2 separate regions of the Homo sapiens genome follow, and region 2 is linked to region 1. Evidence: fine-mapped expression QTL. A gene starts in region 1. The other region holds a variant in brackets. All regions are shown on one strand. Distances are between the middles of the regions. Region 1 holds the start of EPHB1 (EPH receptor B1). Region 2 overlaps EPHB1 (EPH receptor B1).

The links.
Region 2: its variant is fine-mapped to the expression of EPHB1 in caudate (GTEx, PIP 0.95). The same link has a PIP of 0.9 or more in cerebral cortex.

Annotation. Positions count from the first base shown.
Region 1 is chr3:134,793,729-134,797,728 of GRCh38, reverse strand. EPHB1 (EPH receptor B1) reads right to left here and starts at 2,469. Exons shown (of 16, transcript NM_004441.5): 1 at 2,040-2,469. The coding sequence starts at 2,097. RefSeq lists enhancers at 2,094-2,283, 2,294-2,343, 2,388-2,682, 2,744-2,953.
Region 2 is chr3:134,902,853-134,906,852 of GRCh38, reverse strand. All of the region lies in intron 1 of EPHB1 (EPH receptor B1), which reads right to left. Among named protein-coding and RNA genes, the nearest start is that of EPHB1, 110 kb to the right of the region's middle. The variant T/A (reference allele first, on the strand shown) is at 1,995.

The DNA of each region.
Region 1 (4,000 bases):
AGTGGCTCCGGAAGGCCTGGGCTCTGACACAATGGCACCCGCGGGCAGCTTCCGGCAAGCAGACAGGGACCTCTGGCTAGCCAAGAAGAGGGGCAGGGAGGAAACTGACCACGTCCTCATGCCTGCTGTGTTTCCATACGTTTGCTCTCCAAACTACTTCGCTTGCATGCACAGGAACCCAATGCCGAGAGCACGCTCCCCAAAGTGGGCACCCATCTCCTCTGAGACCCGGCCACTGAACCTCTGGGGGCGCAAAGAGCCGCGGGCCGGACCGAGCCTCGGACCTGCATGACGCCACCCCAATGCTGCAAGTCCAGTCTGGAATTGCCCTTGCAAATGCGCTCACCCTGGCTTTCCTGCCCGGTTTGGGGGTATATATCCCCTTGAATTTCCAATTTCAACTGCTCCCACACGTGTCTCTCAATAAGTCAAACCCAGGCATCCCTGCGCCAGGGTGTTGACGGCACTCCACACGGCTCCAGTCTTCTCCTGCACGTTCCAAAAAGCAAACCCCTCCTTGCTCCCCTCCCTACAAAGCCCAGCAGTCCCTGAGGGAAGCAGGAGACTGAGGGCAGACAAAAAGCCACCTTCGGAAAAGCAAGCGAGAGCTTTCTAGGCATTAATCGCCGCACCCCCACGCCGCCACCAGAACAAACGTGGGATGCGGTGGTCTTCGCCAAAAGGGAAGGGAATCTTAGCCGCGCCTCAGGGCCCGGAATGCCCCTCCAGCTTCACTTCCAGAAGGGCAGAGCTTTCCGGAATGGCGGGGGGCACCAAACCATCGTGTTTGGGGGAGTTTCCACTGGGCAACCGGTCACAGTTTCGCGAGGAACGAGTAACAAGCGGAGCGAGCTCCCAGATGGGAACGCTGCGCGGTCGCCAAGAGCTGCTCCTCCCCGGCTTGGAGTCCCCCAGAGGAGTTCCATCCGGAGCAGGACACCGGAAAGTGGGGCTGCTAGCCGGACTGCGGCAGCGCATCACCCCTAGAGTTGGTTTTCTCCCGACAACTCCAACTCCGCTCTCCCGCGGAGCTGTGTTCCCAGGAGGCTGCCGCGGCCGCTGCTAGGCTGCGAAGAACAGAGGCGGGGGAAGGGGCGGGAGGCGGGGAGCTGGGCCGGGATTTCCCACAGGGATTCGCGAGCGCTACCGAGCGCCCAGGCTCCCCGCTGCGCCGGGCACGGTGTCTTTGGAGCGCGCTTTCCCAGCCACCAAGCCGGAGGCACCGCCAAGTCTGAGCTGGCAGAGAGTGACGCTGCCCGACGACTCCCGGCCGCCGAGTATCCTCTCCGGGGTGGTGGAGAGGCTGGGAGACTTTAGGTAGGACCGACCACTCACCCCAGCCCACTCCTGTTCCAAGGCTCAAGAGGCGAAAAGGGTTTCCACCTCTCCCCGACTGACCCTGGAAACCTGCAGTCCCGCAGGCGCCCGGACCACCAGACTGGTCCCCAAGGGTACGGCCAATGAACTCCACCCCTCTCCTTCGGCGGCCACTTGCGGGATACCACGGCAGAGCTTCTCCGGCCCCCGCGCGCAGTGCTTGCACGCCAAGCAGAGTCCACTAGCCCGTGGACTGCGAGCTGGAGAAAAGGAGGTGGCGCGCGGCTGCTCAGAAGCGTATCCGTGCCTGGGAGCAGACGGGCGCCAGTACTCCAGGAGCCGGATGGCCAGAGGCACCCCTTTCTCCCCAACGCCCAGCTCTGGCTCTGCCCCAGAGCTAAGGAGCATGCACCGCAATGCAGCGGGCTCCGAGCTCTCCGAGCGGGGGCTGCGGGAGACCGAGGCTACCAGGGAGTGCCGGGGCGAGGAAGCCGGGGGACTCGCGAGCCAGTTTCGGGCGCTAAGAGCCAGCCGGGGGCGCTCTGGTGGGTGCCGCCCAAGCCCCGCGCTCGGCAGCGGCCGAGGCTCCCAAACCTCCTTGCCCTCGGGTCCCGGGATGCCTGCACCGCAAAGCAGCCAGAGGAACCCCGCGAACCGCGGAGCACAGCAGTCCCAAGGCGGCCGGCACCAGCAGCCAACTTGCTCCGTGGAGGGTACGTTACCTTCCATCGCAGCCACTGCGGATGCCAGGAGGAGCAGTAGTAGATAATCCAGGGCCATCGCCGGCCGACGGCCCGCAGGCCGAGACCAAGCCGAGGCAGCAGCGCCGGGAGAGCGCCGCGTCCCAGGGCGCCGCTGCGCTCTCCGCGGGTGGCTTCTCGGTATCCTTTCGCGCTCTCGCCCGGACCGGACTTCCCGGAGCGCTGCGTGGGCGTGGGCAGGAGTGTGTGCGCGTGGGGCGGTGCGGGCGCGCGTGGGTGTGGGTGTGCATGTGTGTGTGTGTGTTTATGGGAGAGGTGGGTGTGTGCGTGCGTGTGTGAGAGAGAGAGGGCGAGGGAGAACGAGCCTGGGAGAGCGCGCGAGAGCGAGTGCGTCCTGGTGTCACATTGCTAGCTACAGCGGAGCCTACGGGAGGACGGAGCCGGCCAGACTGACGCGGGAGGGAGCGGGATCCCCCACCATCAGCTCTCTCCCCACCCCTAACACCTCCTGTCCAATCAAGGAATCAAACCTGCAAAATTCCCCCGGCCAATCAGGCGCGAGCACCTCCTTACACTGGCATTGTTAGTTTAAGAAAAACTTTTGCTTGCAAGGCTGTGCGGGAGGGCTCGGAAGGCGCTAGGAGGGGTCCGGGCTCCCCCTCGTGGTGCTCTCGGAGAACCGCAGCGGCCCGCCCAACTCACCCTGTCCCCCCATAGGGTGCCCAGCGAAGGAGCTGGGGAGGCCTCGTGCCCTTACATCCCACCCAGGACTGGATCCGCTTTAAATGATCAAACGAGCCTTCGTTCATCTTCTCTGTGACAAGAGCACCCTGCCTACCCTGTTTAGAGCAACTCCAGGGGCGCACCCGTGCCTCTCCTCCAGAGCTCTTCACTCTCTAGCATGGGTTGGTATTTACTAATCGATTTTGTTTATCGTGGGGTCTCTCCCTCATTAAAATGGGGTCACCATTTTCGGATTCTTGTCTATTTTGTTCACTACAGAATCCACAGTTCACAGAACAGTGCCTGGCCTGCGGGAGGCATAGTACATGTCCGTCGAAAGAATGAATACTGTTCAGATAACCTGTGGGCACTTGCTCCAGGGTCCACAGGGAACCGGATTTGCTTCCTGTCCAACGTTTCGCAGTTCTTTTTCTGCAGAAGCCTCTGGTTGCCTTTGGTGTTCACTTCCCAGTGCATTGTGAACTTCCACAGAGGGCCCTGACCCCAGAGGACAGCTCAGCGTGGGGAGACCAGGAGTCACACAGTCAGCTATAAAACAGCAAAGCCTGCAAGAGGGCTCTCCCAGGCCGGTGCAAGGCGAGGTGCACTGTTGCTGTGGGCCAGGCCTTCAGTGTGGGTGGGAAGGACTTAGGCAGCAACTGGGGATGCAGCCTTGGAGATAGGAGCAATTCTCCCAGGCTCAGCTCTCACAGCTACACTTTATCTTCCTGTTTCTGGAGATGGTCAAGGGTTCTAAATCAGAAACTCACCTTGAGGCTGTTATATGTTATGCTGGAGATGTGTCCTTCCCTCCTCTCCCGCCCCCCCTACATACCTGATGATAGTCTGGTCCTACAGGGTCAGGGATGACCCGTTAGGTTCCCCACCCCTCCTCCTACGCCTCTCACCTTGGAGGCACCAATCCTTTCCCCTGGTCTGTTAATGAGCTAACAGTGGGCAGATGCGATATTTCCCTTTGGGATGACTCTCCTTTCTGGGCTTTTCTAAATCAGTTCCCCACACCCCCCACCTCTGCGTGTCTAGTCTCTCCTTTGCTGGGACTTCTTCCTCTCCACCACAGCCAGACTCAAGTCCCCCAATCCTGACAATTCTTTCCTTCCCTGGCTCTGACTCAGGCTGCCTTCCTCCTCCCCTCCCCTCCCTCCTACCCCACCTCTGTGCCTGAAGGGAAGATGTCATCAACCTCCACCTTCTCATCATCCACCTTAATGCCATGTTAGCTGCCCTCTACGCCTCCA
Region 2 (4,000 bases), 110 kb before region 1:
ACCTCTGGGGTGATAGCCTCTGGGCTGCAAAGCAGCACAGGTCTAGGTAAAGTCCTCCAGCCCAACCCAGGAGCACATTCTCCAAGAGGGCCTTGGTTTACCACTGACCACACTGGCTGCTCTGATAAGTGTTATGATGGTCTGCTCTGGCGGCTGGCAAACTTCATATGTTAGGCTTTGGGAGCCATAAGATCTCTGTTGCAACTACTCAATTCTGCCATTGCCATTACCTCATGTAAGCAAACTATAGGCTGGATTTGGCCCATGATATATAATTTTCCCACCACTAGATAGTGAAGGGTTGTGGCCTGGACAAACATGCTAGAAGAATTTGATCAGTGATATTTAAAACTTGTCTTTTCACGTTTGATCACTTCATTCATTATTTTATTGTACAATTAAAAGAAAAAACTCTTACAGCTATCAGCATACCTATAAACGTCCACAAAAGTTTGTGTGACCTCTAGAATACCAGAAAATCACCAGCTGGAACCCAGAGGATACTCAATGAACAAAAATAAAATTAAATAAAATTTATATTACTAAGTCATCTAAATAGAGTGTACCTACAGAAGATGACTGGCCTAATTCTGATCTATGATGCTATCCCCTCGGGCTAAATGGTTTCAACAAAATTCAAAAAGGAATTTGAGTCCTTCCAAAGGGGTATAAAGGGAAACAGAATAAACATGGGGAACACAGGCCTCATTTGCCATTAATGAATTTGCAGAGGAACGTGTATAATTAGTGTGTTTGTCAGCTGGGTTTCTGTAGACTTGGCACATCAATGGGATCGCATCACCATGGGAGCGCTCAGAAGGGCCATGGGCCCTGGGCTCTCGGAAGAGTCTCCTCTGATCTTATGGAAACCACCAATCAGAGGTATGAGAAAGGAGATCAGCCAAGAGAAAATTCAATACTGCAAAATCAGGTGGCAGAGGAGTGAAGCTAGCAGATGGGCAAAGGGGGCTTCAGAAGGGAAGCCAACAGCAAGATGCTCAATCGAAACAGTCCAAGGACTGCCTGGGAATCATGGGGAAACGGCAAGGCTCTGTCTGGCTTTCACAGCTTAGAGGGCAGTTGGGAGGAAATGTCCACAGCAAGGCTCCTGGTCAGCACCAAGAGGAAACATAAGCCAAGAGTCAGTCCAGATTTGGCCAGACCTCAGCACAGGAAAAGAGGAGGCCAGAAGTGTGGTGTACTCCACAGGCCACACTGACTGGCCCTTGTAAAACCACCTCACCACCTGCTGCCTTTGCTCTTCCTCTTTTCCTTAGGCTTCCACTCCATTGCACCTTTTCCCAGCGGGTGGTCCCTACAGATGTGCTGGGCTGATGGATAAACCACATGTGCTTCCCAAAGCAGAATGCTTGCCCTGCCCCCTGGTTGGCAATGCTGGGCAGTCAGTAATGCCGGGAATGACAAGAGAAATGCCTGACATGCGGAAAGTGACAAGAGAAATGTGTGGAAGGTGTGGCGGGGAGTGGCTGCAGTGCGCACACTCCACAATCAGTTTGGTAGGCCAGCAGCATGTGGAAACTCACAGAGAAAATATGTCGGCTTCAGAGAGAGGCTCCTGGGGCCCCCTCAGCCAGCACTTTGGATAGCTCCAAAGAGGAAAGTGGAGGAAGGCTGATCCCCAGTGTCCATCCAATCTTCTCTACCTGCAACTTACAAGAGTATTCTAAAGAAACACTGCACTGGAGGTGGGTACTGATGCAGCTATTGGGGAGTGAAGCAGGACCCTCACCCACAGCCACAACCACTCCCACATGGTCTCAGGGGCTGACTCATGGTGACCAGTGCTGTGGAATCATGCCCCATTACTTTTGTTTTACAGTTTCAGCTCCTGTAGAGATCATTTGTCTCTCCAAGTGCAGTCCTGTGACTGGGCACTCTGCCACCTGGTGCAAAGCCCGCTCCCCTAAAAGGCCCCTGGTTAAAGCAGAGAAGTAAAAGAGCTAGGCATAGCAGACCCAAACAAGAACATTTTG[T/A]CAAAAACAGATCTCTTTCACCAACTAAGCTTGAACAAATTGTATAAACACTATATTTAGACACTTTGAAGGAATGTTTAAAGTTTGTGTTTCCTAAATGACAGTCAGATGTCTTCCCTGACTATCTGTGATCAGCTGTAGAATTCACTTCCCCATCCCATACTCGTGATCTCCAAGAGACTAGCTACTCAGTGTGTGTGCCAAAATCTCTCAGCCATAGCCCCTTGGTGAGGAGGTATTTCTCCCAGCTATGAACTTTTTCCCATGCAGAGTCAAACCATCCGCTGGCTCAGCAAGTGTAAAGCCCCAAAAACTGTGGGTTGTTGCTTCTGAGAAATGTCCACCCCCATGGTGCTTACCTGCCACCCCCCACCACAGACCACAGACCACAGACACACTGGCCCAGGCTGACACCCACTCGCAGGCACCCCTCCACCACCCTAGCAGCTGCCTGCTTTCACACGCTGCCTCAGAGATGAAAGCGACTATGTCCCTTAAACAGAAGAGAATATTTTGAACAGAGAATTAACAGCAAATTAAACTGGTTTCACTGTACTCATTCATGCACAAAATTAGTGTGGGAGTTAAACCAAGAAAAAGCAAACAGGCGATGTGTTGCGATAATCAGAGGGCAGAATCCAGCCTCAGAAAGAAATGTTCACTCAGAGGAGGAAAGCCTGGGAGCTACAGGCTCCTAATTGGGCAAGAGTGCTACCTCTTCTCCCACCTGGAGCCAGCCTCCTTTCCAGGGCTGGGGGATCCAAAAGGGCTTGGAGATCTCCTAGGCCAGCAGCAGACAGCCTCATGACAGGTAGACACACCCTCCTGAAAAGGCCCCCGGTGCTTGCCTGCTCTGCTCCCTGGGCAGCTGCTTGCACTGCCGCTGCACAATCAATGAAAAACATTACAGAAACAACCAATTAGGGCCTGAAATGCCTTCAGGCTTTTTCCTTCGTGGGCACATCTGGCTGCGGTGGGGTCACAGTGAAACTTCTCTCCTGTGGATTCACTGGGACCCAGAATTAGCAACAATGGAATAATAACCAGCTTTAGAACACCAAGCAATTTTTAATAACTTCACAAATCTTTCCTTCCAACTCTGTCTGGTTAATCTATTACCTAATTCTTACCTTTGATAGAATTCTTACCTTTGGTCCCTCCATTTACCAAGGCCCCATCATTCCCATCCCTAGAATAAAACCTGGTCCAGGCGTACACAGTCCAGGCTGGGTGGAAGGGAAGTATACATGAGTGGACAGTGAAAGGACCCCAAACTTCCAGCCCCAAGGACCTTCTGAGAAGGAGATTCTCAGAAAGGGCAGCAGCGATCCCAAGCAAATTCATTTTAATGACAAATGATGCTGCTAAAAGTGCCGGTGCTCACTGTGCACGTCAGCACATCCTAGGCCTTGAGGCAAGCTGAGGCTTCTCTCCTGGGCACACTGCTGAAGAGGCCAGAGAGGTTGGATGTGAAGAGTCAGCCTCTCTCATTCCATACACTCACCCTTGTTTTGCCAGCACCAGTAGGAGCTACCCTAAAGCTTCAGGGGATGCCTGGAATGCAGGAGCCCAGACTGGAGCCCTGAGCAGGCTCTCAGAGCCCTGCTCCTTCCAACGACCTCCAGATAAGCTCTTTGTTGTCCCCAGCTTGGCACGGAGCCACCCAGAGCTCCAAGTGGAGTGCCCGCACTTTTATTTCTATTTATTTTTAATACATCAAATAAGATGAGAGAAACATAAGTTTTAGTAATACCGAATATACAAATGGGACCTAGTACCCTCAACTTGGGCCATAGTCAGGACCATGTGTCCTGAAAAGCCTGCAAGGGCAACCTGCGGAAGGGTGGCCAGGGTGCCCTAACTCCATGTTCATTATCTGCATGGAATATGGCAATTTACAGATGCCTGGTGAAGAGCATTTCCAGGCCACATTATCTGGTTTAGACTAAACTAACCGTTATAGAGATGGAATAAGTGGCTTTCAAAATTGCTGCAAAAGATACTCA